Homo sapiens: one gene and its partners. The protein of the gene in region 4 purifies or fractionates together with the protein of the main gene of each other region. This does not show direct contact. Each region holds a gene or a part of one and is shown on either strand. Other genes may lie near its edges.

Region 1 (3,500 bases), on a different chromosome or scaffold from region 4:
GGGGATCAGGAAGAGTTCAAGCTGGGAAAAATCACTTGGGGTACTTTTTGTAACAAGGAAAGGGAATTCAGTGTAGGTCAGATGAGCAATTCAAAGGGGTCTGTTTGGGATGCCATAATAATACCACAGACTGGGTGGCTGAAACAACAGAAATGTATTTCTCACAATTCTGGAGGTTAGAAGTCCAGGGTCAAGGTGCTAGCAAAATAGTTTCATTCTGAGGCCTTTTCTTGTGGCTTGGCTGAAACAACAGAAATGTATTTCTCACAATTCTGGAGGTTAGAAGTCCAGGGTCAAGGTGCTAGCAAAATAGCTTCATTCTGAGGCCTTTTCTCTTGGCTGGTAGGCAGCTGCCATCTTGCCATGTGCTCACATAGTGGAGAGAGAGTGTGCTCTAGTGTCTCTTATAAGGACACTAATCCTATTGGATCATGGCCCCACACTTAACGACCTCATTTAACCTTAGTTACTTTCTTAGAGGCCCCATCTCCAAATACAGCCATGGTGGGGATTAAGGCTTCAACATGTGAATTTCAGGGGGAATTTCCATTCAGTCTGTAAAAGGGCCTCAGGAAGTGGCTTCACCTAGGATCTGATCTTTGGCTCTAGGGGATCAGAAATGTGACTTTGTTTCTCCTGCACAAACTCATGGACCTGACATAGGGGAAGTCCAGTTATGAGAACCTGATATTGTGTATGGCATACTGCCAATTTATTAATTTACATAGTGGGCCTACCCACCATTAAGTTGTGTTTCTGCTATTCCTTTTTTTTTTTTTTTTTTTTTTTTTGAGAGAAGGTCTCACCCTGTTGCCTAGGCTGTAGTGCAGTGGTGTCATCTTGGCTCACTGCAACCTCTGCCTCCCGAGCTCGAGTGATCCTCCCACGTCAGCCTCCTGAGTAGCTGGAACCACAGGCGTGCGCCACCATGCCCGGCTAATTTTTGTATTTTTTATAGAGACAGTGTCTCACCATGTTGCCCAGCCCACTGGTTTTGAACTCCTGGGCTCAAGCGATCCGCCTGCCTCAGCCTCCCGAAATGCTAGGATTACAGACGTGAGCCACTATGCCTAGCCCATTTCTGCTATTCAAAACACTTCATTATGGTGCCAGCACCCTGTATTAGTCATCAGAAGGTTTTTCATTAAGTGTGGAACCAGAGTGAAGGGAGGGGGGTGGTTCTGGACAGTTCTAGGAGAATCTTGATGGACTGTGCCTGCCCTACACAGAGGACACCTGTCCAGTTGGTTCATTTTGACATCAGTTGTGTTCAGGCCCCAGAAGTGTTAGACCTGCCCTGTTGGTCTCATGTCCTGATGGTGACCATCAGAGATATGATTATGTTCCCCAAGACTCACCCCAGGTGTCCTGATGGACTTGTCTTCTCAGGGTGGGACATTCCTATGCACATCTGCTTGCTCCTCTGTGAAGGTGCCAACCTCCTTTCTGCCTCAGGGCCTTTATGCAATGGCTCTTCCCTCTTGGGGGAGAGGTCTTCCAAGATTGTGTTACATCTGCAGTGATACTTTCTCTTTCTTTTACTTGTTTATTATCTAAGTCTCACCTCTTCTTTCTTGCATGAAAACTCTGTGAGGGTTGGTTATCTCCCAGGTGCCTGGAATAGTGCTTGCACTCAGTAACGTGGGCTCTCAGTAATAACTTGTTGAATGAGTAAATGAATGAGTGAATGATTGGTTGATCCATCCACTTATGTTTCAGTTTGCAGTTTTTCCTTAGTATTATTTAGCCGTGTACTGATTATACTATTTTCTGTGCAAATGAGATATGGTAGATTTTAGTAATTTGTCGAAGAGATGCCAGTACTATTGAAAGTACAATCACCAAATTGCAATGTTGACAGGAAAACCCTCTGTTACTTACTTCCAGAAGTTAGGTTATTCTTTCAGCAATTCCAATTGCTAGAAGCTCCTCAGTATATTGAGCCCAGATCCATCCTGCTGACTTCAGTCCACTGAGCCATAAAAGCAGCTCTAATTCTTCTTCGACTTGTTAGTTGTGTCCTCCAAGTCCTCTGTTGACTGTTATGCAATGTGCTGTTTTTTTTTTTTTTTTTTTTGAGATGGAGTTTTGCTCTTGTTGCCCAGGCGGAGTGCAGTGGCTCAATCTTGGCTCACTGCAACCTCCACCTCCCGGGTTCAAGCGATTCTCCTTCCTCAGCCTCCCGAGTAGCTGGGATTACAGGCACGTGCCCCAACACCCAGCTAATTTTTGTATTTTTAGTAGAGATGGGGTTTCACCACGTTGGTCAGGCTGGTCTCGAACTCCTGACCTCAGGTGATCTGCCCGCCTCGGCCTCCCAAAGTACTGAGATTACAGGCGTGAGCCACCACACCCCACCCGATAATGGGGTTTTTTGGTGACTTCACCATCTTGGTCATTTTGATGGGACGTGTTGCTGTGGTTGTTCAGTGCCTGCAGGTGGTTCAGACCTGAATATACAACTCCTGAGGTGGACTGGAGCGTGGAGCAGAATGGGCCTCTGCCAAACCCCCATCCTGTCTCTTCCCACTCTGTTGTTAAACCGCGTGGTCTGATCTAGTATTGGCCTGAGGATTCTTTCTTCAGCAATTTCTTGTCACATTTCTTCTATGTGGCATGCTGAATATTTATGGGGTTTTGTGAAGAATAAAGATGTCTGAAAAATTCCATCAAAACAGGATGTAACAACTTGGGGACAGTACCTTCAAGCCTGCTGTTAATTTAAACACACACACACACAGACACACCCACACACACACTCCCCTTTCGTAGGTAATGAGAATGTCTTGCCACCCAATGTAACAAACACCTCTGAATTTTTTTTTGTTTTTGACAGTTTTTTGTCTCACCTAATCTGGCCACCTTTGTTTTGAGCGTGGTGCCTCCAGTGTCAATCATTGCTGTAATTTATGGGCGATATCTACGGAAACTGACCAAAGTCACTCAGGATTCCCTGGCACAAGCCACTCAGGTAAAGGCCCCTTCCTGTCCGCGTGGTTTCCAGCAGAATGGGGTCATAGCCAGGATCCTAGAGGGCAGATCCTAAGGGATGTACTTAGGTTTTTCAATGAAGTGCCTGCCTTTCCTTTCATTAGAAATTACCCCAAGATCCATGAAACTTAAACTACTCTGTTTTCTAGACTAGATTTCTACCCATATCTCAAAGTAGATCTAACTTCACTAAACATTTTATGGAGTCCTCACTTGTTACTATCACTATTTCTTTTCTTTCTTTTTTTTTTTGTTTTTTTTTTTTGAGACAAGGTACATGAGAAAAGTTTTTTCATGCACTCTAGGCTGGAGCGCAGTGGTACAATCACAGCTTAGTGAAGCTTTAACCTCCCAGGCTCGAGTGATCTCCCACCTCAGCCTCCTTAGTAGCTGGGACTATCGCCCCATGCCACCATGCCCACTAATTTTTAAAATTTTTTGTAGAGACATGATCTTACTGTGTTGCCCAGGCTGGTTTCAAATTCCTGGGCTCAAGTAATCCTCCCACC
Region 2 (3,500 bases), on a different chromosome or scaffold from region 4:
AGAATTGCTTGAACCCAGAAGGCAGAGGCTGCAGGGAGCTGAGATCACGCCACTGCACTCCAGCCTGGGGGACAGAGTGAGACTCTGTCTCAAAAACAAAACAAAACAAAATTTGCTAAAAAGAGTTCCATAACAGCACAAAAATTGTTCTCCTTATATAACTGAATAGACAGGGTAAGTAGGAAAACCATACTCTGAGAATTCTCTTTCCCCTCTCTGAAAGCCAGGGTCTCACTATGTTGCCCAGGCTAGCCTCAAACTCTTGAGCTCAAGTGATCCTCTTGCCACAGCTTCCAGAGTAGCTAGGAGTACAAGCGCATGCCACCATACCCCACCAAGAACACATTTTAAATCATTCTTCTAGCCCTTCATTACCACTAAGTCTTTATTAAGTAAATACCCTATAACACCATTTTAGGTACTACAGAGGATACATGGAAACAGAAGGCTCAATTCTGTCCTACAGGGGATAAACCTAATATTTAATAGTCTAAGATGTTTACATTTAAAAAGACTTAAAAGATCAATTACTACACACACTAAACAAGAAAATATACTTTCTCTAGTATTTAACGTCATTACTGTCAAATTTACATAAAAGTGAAAAAATCAGGACAGATGAAAACCTAGTTAATCCAAGTTTTCATGTTATTAATGTTCTCACTATGTCTCTCTATTCTGTTCTATAAGTTAATAAACTAATAAAAACTTAACTCATCAGCCAACAGGTACATTGACAAGGGAAGAAGTACCCCCATTGATCCAAAGCAGCCAAAAATAAATGAATAAATAGAAAAATATGAGAATAATAGGGGATTTTTTCCCCTGCAGAATTTAAAAATTAAAATCCACAAATAAAATGCTTCAAAATTCCATAGATTTAATGGAACATAAAGTAAAAATTCAATTCGTGGCTTTTGTCCTATGTAGCCCAAATGAGTACTCACAAGCACCAGCTCATTTTTAACATGTGTGAATAGTCTCAAGAAGATAACTACTAGTTTACATTCACATTTTATATGTTCATGTTGTGTATATTCACCACTTGCATGACTCTATTTTACATTTATACCCTTATTTTCTTGTTGCCTCAATTCCTTCACTTATCACATGAAAATTTTTATGAACATCCTGAAATTCTAACACATGGAAGAAGGCAGTATAAGTACTTTTCAATGTAGGACACCCTACACAAAAAGTCTAAAAGATTTTTACCTGCAGAAGGTGATGGCTTTACATCTACAGTAGAGGCAGAAGTGGCTGGGTCTGTGTTTACTGAAGCATCATTCACTTTCTGCTGATTCCCCGTTTTCTTTGTGAAGACATTATTATTATTAGCCTATTCAAAATGTTAATAAGTTGTTAAATGAGTCAATGAATTAGTTATATTTCCTCCTTGCAGTAACTAAGTAAATAATATTTTTACATATTACTTTAGGAAATCCTAAGAAGTCCACAAAGCTGCTCTTGTTTTAAAAGCCAACAAAGACTAAAGTTATACACATCATTTTGCTAACTGACCTAAATGTTGCAAAAGAAATATACTATATTTTGCTTTTTCTTATAAACTCATCAAAAGACCACCAAAATAAGTCATTCACAGAAATCTACTACAAAGTTATAACGTACTCAAAAGGCCCCAGGCCAAATTCATACATGTGAGTGAGTCATACTTAAAGTATCATATTTTTTCACAAAAGCCTTCCTACTTTACTACATGCATTCCTTGCTTGTCTCCTCTGATTTAAAAAAGTAGGACCAGGAAAGTATCATATGCATCACATAGTAAAAGAGAGCTATAGTACCACTTTCAATTTCAGGTTTTAAATATGTTTCTTCTACATTTCCAGGAGTTCCTCAGATAGTAAGCCTTGTATTTAAGCACAGTTTAAGGACCCACATTGAAACATACATACCTCAAAACAAAAACATCTTCTTTGGTATATTACAAATCTACCTACCTATTCTCAAATGGAATAAAAAAGAATTAGCTAACACTCTTTAACTGTTCCTAATCTAATAGGAATAGGAATCTTCATAATATGAGTATGAAGAACTTGCCAATTACAACTGAGACACCATCTAAGACCTAGGGATGATTAATGGTGAACTCCAATGAGGATAGATGTCATGGTCACAAGAGTCAATAATAAGTATTGAGTTTTGAGTGACAGATATTTATCAAGAACTTAAGAGGGAAATTATCTAGAAAAGAAGACTTTTTTCTGTTTTTTCCTTGCTACTGCCCTTGCTTCCTTTGTTGGCTGTCCAGTAAATTAAAATTCCAGACTTTTTTAAAGAAGAGTTATTACAATATTTGGCCAATGACTTGAAATCAAGCAGAGATAAATAATATTTAAAAGGTTGATATTTGGAATATTACAAATTTGATTTTCGAACAAAAATACTAACAACACATTTTACTATGTGTAAATTTAATGATACTTACTGATTGATCTGAAAGTTTGTTTATTTGTTTTTGGAGCCTTTGGCATTCCTTAAATTTTTCTTTATAATGGTCTGCAGCCATCTGAAGACGGAGTTTCAGATCTTCAACTTCTCTTCTTAGTTCGTGTTCCAGTGTATCAGTCTTGTCCTAGAAAGAAACAAACATTTGAAGAAAAAAATAAAAATCTGATACCTCCTAATGTTAATAGTAACCCCAACTTCAATCTTACTTTTTTTCTTTTTTTTGTTTTTGAGACAGAGTCTTGCTCTGTCACCCAGGCTGAAACACAGTGGCCCAATTATGGCTCACTGCAGCCTTGACCTCCTGGCTCAAGCAATCCTCTTGTCTCAGCCTTTGGACTAGCTGGGACTACAGCTGCACACCACCACACCTGGGTAATTTTTGAAAATTTTTGTAGAGATGAGGTCTCACTATGTTGCCCGGGCTGGTCTTGAATTCCTGGGATCAAGCGATCTTCCCACCTCAGCCCCCCAAAGTGCTGAGGTTATAGGTGTGAGCAACTGTCCCCGGCCACTTTTTTATTTTGGGATTTTGGCTACAGAGCAACATAGGGTCTCTTGTTAAGTCCAGTTTTACATTCTTAGGACTAAGGTTCATTTAAAAAACTAGAGAAAAATAATCCACCTCCTGAAGAGCAATTATTACTCCCTTAAACAACCATAATACTGTTTTATACAGCTAGTAAGAAATTCCAAACAAAACAATACATATCTGACATCAATATATTTAATCAATAGGGCAGCTTTCACCAACCATTAAGAATTCTGCTTACAGAAGTTTTCCTTACAGCACACATTAACTGTAAGCCAAGAAGTCACAATGACTAAACAAAAGGAATGAAAATTTTAAATTTAAAATAAGGCAGAAATCTGACCTGTCTTATCTTAACACAATTTACTACTTTGTGAGATTATAGTGGTTTCTTAAATCAAAATGCAAATTCAAAATTAACTTGTTTTACCTGATCTTTTTTCATAGCATTTAGTTTAAGTTCTGCCACTGCATCAGCTAACTGCTTTTTCACTTTCTC
Region 3 (3,500 bases), on a different chromosome or scaffold from region 4:
ACATTCCAGTCACCTTCATTAGAGGACAATTTCTAAGAGGTGGTAACCCTATGGGGAGCAGTCCAGAATTACATGTTTTTTACTACGATAATTTTTTTTTAAAAAAAGGAAAAATTGGCCGGGTGCGGTGGCTCACGCCTGTAATCCCAGCACTTTGGGAGGCTGAGGTGGGCAGATCACCTGAGGCTGGAAGTTCAAGAGCAGCCTGACCAACATGGAGAAACCCCGTCTCTATTAAAAATACAAAATTAGCCGGATGCGGTGAAGCATGCCTGTAATCCCAGCTACTCAGGAGGCTGAGGCAGGAGAATCGCTTGAACCTGGGAGGTGGAGGTTGCAGTGAGCCGAGATCGCACCATTGCACTCCAGCCTGGGCAACAAGAGTGAAACTCCGTCTCAAAAAATAAAACAAAATAAAATAAAATAAAATAAAAGGATAAATTGTTTTTAAAAAGATTCTCTTACTATTACCTGAGTTAAATTGCTCATTTTATCTGAATCATTTCTTTTATGTTGAATCTTGCCTTCTTTCCCCTGCTAGTTCCCCTCTGCTTCTCTGCTGATGTATATTACTGTTTCAAAAACTATTCACATTAGTTCTGTTTAAAATGTTTTTTGCATAGCATTCTGAAGTCCTCTAAAGAACAATGTGTTGCAATCTGAAACCCATCCTGTTGCATATGGCTTAGAAAGAACTCAGTTCATTTGATAAATAACACAGGCTGAGTATCTCTAATCCAAAAATCTGAAATCCAAAACTTTTTGAGCAGTAATGTGACAAACAAAATACTCATTAGATCATTTCAAATTTCAGATTTTCAGATTAGAGATGCTCAACTGGTAAGTATAATGCAAACATCTGAAAAAAATAAAAAATCTGAAACACTTCTGATCCCTAGCATTTCAGATAAGAGATACTCAACATGTAAACCGGTAAGCCTACTTTTTTAAAGGGGTAAGTGAAAAAGCAGGAAAAACAACATCTCTTAGGAAGAGGTGACATTTGGTATTTCTCACCTTGATATCTCCAGTCTCTTTATCCTTGTACTGAACTCCCATCACAACATCATCTTCCTCTAATAACTGTAACACAACACCTTCAATAAACTTTGCACTAAAGAATAAAAAAAAATACATTTCTAAAGCAGCACATTTCAGCAATTTAAATTAAATATAAATTCCTTATCTCCAGTTTATCCATATAAACTGGACATGCATGTGTGTGCAAACACGTGTCCAATGTGTGTTTTTTATTTTCTAATTTATCAACATTTAATACATATTACTAATGATTACATTAGTAATCATTAGTAATCATTAAATATTTTAAAAATATTTTAAAAAGTAACATTGGATTTTCATCTTAATTTGTTAAAAATAAATTAATTTGTTAAAAAATAAAATATAGGCAGAGAAACTTTACATACCCTCATACATTCATACACAGAGGGGAAAACAAGTATTGGAATGCATCCTGCAAACTGTTAAGAGTAATTATTTCTGGCAGGGCACGGTGGCTCACACCTGTAATCCCAGAACTTTGGGAGGCCAAGGTGGGCGGATCACAAGGTCAGGAGATCAAGGCCATCCTGGCCAACATGGTGAAACCCCGTCTCTACTAAAAATACAAAAATTTGCCAGGCGTGGTGGCATGTGCCTGTAATCCCAGCTACTCGGGAGGCTGAGGCAGGAGAATTGCTTGAACTCGGGAGGCAGAGGTTGCAGTGAGCCGAGATTGCAACACTGCCCTCCAGCCCGGGTGACAGAGCGAGACTCAGTCTCAAAAAAAAGAAAGAGTAATTATTTCTAGTCAGAAAGATCACAGGTAATTTTTATAATCTTTATATTTGGGACTATTTTTCCATTTTCTTTTTTTTTTTTTTTGAGACCAAGTCTCGCTCTGTCGCCCAGGCTGGAGTGCAGTGGCGCTATCTCGGCTCACTGCAACCTCCACCTCCTGGGTTCAAGCAATTCTCCTGCCTTAGCCTCCCAAGTAGCTGGGACTGCAGGTGCGTGCTACCACGCCTGGCTAATTTTTTCTTATTTTTAGTAGAGACGGGGTTTCACCATATTGGCCAGGCTGGTTTTGAACTCCTGACCTCGTGATCTGCCCACCTCAGCCTCCCAAAGTGCTGGGATTACAGGCATGAGCCACCGCACCTGGCCGATTTTTCCATTTTCATACAGTGAACATACTCTTCTTCCATGGATATCAAGTCTTTTTAGTCCAAAGGATTAAGTCCACTTGCTTCTTCACTTGCTTTGTCAATACTTTAGTCTGTGTCAGTCACATGAGGGTTCTCACGCTTAAAACTTCTTCAATTAGTGTTTTAAAGGTTACTGGTAAATATAAGTTAATAAACAAGAGAAGAAGCCAGTCCTAACAGACTGGGTCTTTAGTGAGAATGAAACAGGGATTTCTCCTTGCAGTTTTGTATCCTGACTTCTAATAGAAAGTATCGTAACCACAAACTCAAACTCCAAAATGTGCACAAATGGACTTATGCCTTAGTTACAAATATATCCTCTAAATTCCCGTCACATAAAAATTATGTAATTTTCATTTAGTCAAAGGAGAACTCTTCATAGTTCCATGTCAAAGGAAAATTCTCTATATGATATTCTTAACAAAAGCACTGAATATCTAACACTCTTTTGACTGACAGTTTATTTTAATATACATATGTTCTAGACTATGCCCCAAAAATTCATTAAAATTTATAAAATCTTATTTGTACAAAGGTCAAATTTAAATGCATTGATTCTTTAGTAATTATATATTTGAAACTGTGGTCTTACTTGGGCTCTGCCATAGCTGCTTTCCGGAGACTCATGATGAATCTTCCGTGATGGAAAGCTCTTCCACTCTGCACTTGATTGTTTTCTGACAGAGGGTAAGGAATCTGAACCTCTGATTTGCTTTCCTGATCATGAATCATGTAACCATTTACAACCTGGGCATCAAGACCTTCCACTGTATCTGCAAAGCAATCGAGTTCAAAACAATCAATTCTGTTAACACACCCAGCGTTAAACTAAGAACCAAAGAAGACACACACACATCAAAAATGAGTCTCTGCCTTCAAATCTGGAGAACTGAACAAAACTAATGTAACTATTTCAGAAACTGTGAATGCTTCTGGAAGTCAATGAGAGTCTTAGCAAATCTGTAATATCATTTAAAGATAACAACATAACTATTTCAGGTCTGTAATTCCACTTCAACTTCAGAAAGAAAATGCAACATGAAATAAACCATAATCCTCTCCTGAGTAAACCTGTTCTGCCATAAAGACATAGGAACACATTTAGTCCTTCTTAACACTTCTTTCAATGTATGAATATGTAGATTTGTCACCAAAAAGAAATAAAAATAAAATAAAACCAGTATGGAAACTCAAAAAAAAACCCCAATTTATATATAATGACTGAATATATGAAAAAGTAGATTTTCCAAACCAAATGGAAAGGGTAGAGTTATCCCCCAACTGTTGATGATT
Region 4 (3,500 bases):
TCTGACTGCATCATATCCCTTATCCCACTTAATACTCTTTAATGGTTTTCCTTTGCTCTAAAATTAGAGGAAAAGTTCTTAGCACGGTTTATAAGCCATCGCCACCCCCCATTCCCATATCAATTGCTATCAATTCCAGGCCCTACACACCACAGGGCCTTTGCAAGTGCCATTTGCTGTCTCTGGAAAACACACACATCTCTCCTCTTTTGCCTCTCTCTCTACCTCCTACTCAAACCTCAGCTCTCATCTCAGATGTCACTTTCTTACATAGACCAGTCTGTCTAGGTCAGGGTTTTGTTGTTGTTGTTCTAGTCTCTCAATTCCCTTTCTTTCTACACGCTTAACTCACTTTGTAATGAAAAGATTATTACTTGATCAGTTTGGGTGTGCCTTCCCCAGAAGTCTCTAAGCTCTATGGAAGCTGAGCTGTCTACTTTCACATATCATTGTATCCCCAACACATAGCACAATGCTCAGCTCAGAACAGGCACTCAAATCTGTGAAAAGGAGGAGAGAGGAAAGAAACTTTCTTTTTTTTTTTTTTTTTTTGTCTGAGACAGAGTCTTGCTCTGTTGCCCAGGCTGGAGTGCAGTGGTGCAATCTCGGCTCACTGCAAGCTCCGCCTCCCGGGTTCACGCCATTCTCCTGCCTCAGCCTCCCAAGTAGCTGGGACTACAGGTGCCCGCCACCACACCTGGATAATTATTTGTATTTTTAGTAGAGATGGGGTTTCACTGTGTTAGTCAGTATGGTCTCCATCTCCTGACCTCATGATCCACCCACCTCGGCCTCCCAAAGTGCTGGGATTACAGGCATGAGCTACCATGCCTGGCCTCTCTCTCTCTTTTTTTTTTTTTTTTTTTGAGATAGATGGAGTCTCACTCTGTTGCCCAGACTGGAGTGCAATGGCGCAATCTTGGCTCACTGCAACCTCTGCCTCCTGGGTTCAAGCGATTCTCCTGCCTCAGCCTCCTGAGTAGCTGGGATTACAGGCACCCACCACCATGCCCAGCTAATTTTTGTATATTTAGTAGAGGCGGGGTTTCACCATGTCGGTCAGGCTGGTCTTGAACTCCTGACCTCAGGTGATCCACCTCCCTCGGCCTCCCGAAGTGCTGGGATTACAGGCGTGAGCCACCGCGCCCGGCCAAAAAAATTTTTTCAAGTGGTCCAGGGTCACACTCATTAGTGTGATAAATGTTTAACAACCGGCTCTATGAAGAAAAAAAACCCTGATCTCCACTGTTTGCCAATTCCTATGGTGTAAATGCTCCCACCATGGTGAATTTCAAGCTGCCAGCATGACATTACTGAATGTGAAGTTGGATAGACACGTGCAGCAGGCTCAGAGTCAATAGAAGCCAAGCTGGCTCCCACACACCACCAGTTTGTGGCAACCTCAGGACAAAGATTCAGAAAGTCCACCATGTTTTTTTGTTTTTTGTTTTTTGTTTTTTGAGACGGAGCCTGGCTCTGTCCCCCAGACAGTTAGTGCAGTGTTGTGATCTCCGCTCACTGCAAGCTCCGCCTCCCGAGTTCACGCCATTCTCCTGCCTCAGCCTCCCGAGTAGCTGGGACTACAGGCGCCCGCCACCACGCCCTCCTAATTTTTTTGTATGTTTAGTAGAGACGGGGTTTCACCACGTTGGCCAGGATGGTCTTGAACTCCTGACCTCGTGATCCGCCCACCTCGGCCTCCCAAAGTGCTGGGATTACAGGCGTGAGCAACCGCGCCCAGCCCCCACCATGTTTTTAAATGACACCAACTTTCGACTCAATCCTATCTTGGACTAAAGGCCAAAGTAAAGGCACCTGCAGAAAATGTTGCTACAGAGAGGCAGAGGGAGACGGAGAGGGAGAGGGAGAGATCTGCAGATGGTTCAGAACAGGAAGATGAAGAAGGAAAGGGAGACCTGTGACCTGGGAAGACAGCTATCTCCCAAACGGAGGTGGAAAGGCTGCTTAACAGCTGGCTAGCCTCTAATCCTTACATTAATAAGGGCCACTGCCAAACTAAATGTTTAGGACGTTGTTACAAGCAAGTCAACGTCTGCATGAAATGCTGGTTATATCCTCTGACCTTTCTAGCAATTTATCCTAATAGCTCAGAAAAGCAAAACAGGTATCTCCAACCCCAAAATAAAGAAGTTATAAGATCATAAAAATGTTAGAAGAAAACATAGGATTTCCCCCCAGTCTTCCAGGAATCTTCCAAGCCTTAAAGCTAACATAAGAAATCATAAAAAAGAAGATTAATTCATACAACTCTAACCAAACCATACGTTTCTACATAACAAAAATATCATGTACAAAATTTAAAAAACCAAACAGCAAACTCGAGGAAAATGGTTACAAGTCATCCAGAAGGGTTAATTTACATCATACATAAAGTGTACCTATAAATACATAAGAAAATAATGCTTCTCACAGCATATACACACACATAAAGGCAAAGGAAATGAAGAGACTGTTCAAAGAACAGGAAATATGGATGGCTCAAAAACTTTCAAAAAGATGTTTAACTTCCTTCATAACAAGAGAAATGCAAGTCACAACCACCACCAAATACAATTTTTTGCACATCAAACTAGAAAATATGTAAAGATTTGATAATCCCCTGGGTCAGGGAGGGTGTAGGGAACAGAACCACACATATTATTAGTATAATTGTGCATAGCTAAGATTTCTACAGAAAACACTCTGACAGTATTAACATAAAAATGCAGCCTACTTTCACCCTCCCACTTCTAAAAATTTCTTACACGTGTGCAAATGTCTGTGCATGCCAAGATTTCGTGATATATTGTGAATATAACAGCAAAGACTGGAGACAAACTTAATGCTTCCTCGGTAAGTGATTAGTTAAATAAATGGCAGTCCAGTCTGACAATGGAATACTATGCAGACATAAAAAAGAATGAGTATCTCTATGTACTGATGTATTCATCTCCAGCATAAGTGAAAAAACAGTGTTTCGGATACGCTAGTGTTTCTGAGACAAAATATGTAAATGAAAGTAGAACATTTCTGGAAGGGGATGTGAGAAACTGGTAACCATGGTTGCTTCTGAAGAGGGAAACTGGGGGCAGAGACAGAAAGAAATGTTACTTTTATGCTATGCTTTCTGTACAATGTACATGTATTACCTACTATAGTCAATTTTTAAAAATAGATATGCATGAAGATATCCACTGTTGTTGCATATACTAGACAAAAGCCACCACTGGGATGACCTCATGGTAGTCAGTTCAGTATTTTATTATTTTTTTTTGAGACGGAGTCTCGCTCTGTTGCTCAGGCTGGAGTGCAGTGGAGTGATCTCGGCTCACCGCAACCTCCGCCTCCCAGGTTCAAGCGATTCTCCTACCTCAGCCTCCCGAGTAGCTGGGAATACAGACGTAAACCACCATGCCCGGCTAATTTTTGTATTTTTAGTAGAGATGGGGTTTCACTATGTTGGCCAGGCTGGTCTGGAACTCCTGACCTCGTGATCCGCC

What was found. Proteins that work in one complex are often made in the same cells at the same time.
Region 1: the proteins of SLC22A23 (region 4) and ABCB10 purify together in Homo sapiens (affinity purification with mass spectrometry; one large-scale study listed by BioGRID and IntAct). This does not show direct contact.
Region 2: the proteins of SLC22A23 (region 4) and TAX1BP1 purify together in Homo sapiens (affinity purification with mass spectrometry; 2 studies listed by BioGRID and IntAct, with this or other methods). This does not show direct contact.
Region 3: the proteins of SLC22A23 (region 4) and SQLE purify together in Homo sapiens (affinity purification with mass spectrometry; one large-scale study listed by BioGRID and IntAct). This does not show direct contact.

Annotation. Positions count from the first base shown.
Region 1 is NC_000001.11:229,541,708-229,545,207, reverse strand, and holds part of ABCB10 (ATP-binding cassette sub-family B member 10, mitochondrial), read left to right. Parts: intron 1-2,836; coding exon 2,837-2,971; intron 2,972-3,500.
Region 2 is NC_000007.14:27,792,162-27,795,661, reverse strand, and holds part of TAX1BP1 (tax1-binding protein 1), read right to left. Parts: coding exon 3,432-3,500; intron 2,597-3,431; coding exon 2,450-2,596; intron 1,340-2,449; coding exon 1,216-1,339; intron 1-1,215.
Region 3 is NC_000008.11:125,005,005-125,008,504, reverse strand, and holds part of SQLE (squalene monooxygenase), read right to left. Parts: intron 2,981-3,500; coding exon 2,800-2,980; intron 1,115-2,799; coding exon 1,018-1,114; intron 1-1,017. UniProt on the Homo sapiens protein: Catalyzes the stereospecific oxidation of squalene to (S)-2,3-epoxysqualene, and is considered to be a rate-limiting enzyme in steroid biosynthesis.
Region 4 is NC_000006.12:3,447,051-3,450,550, forward strand, and holds part of SLC22A23 (solute carrier family 22 member 23), read right to left. Parts: intron 1-3,500.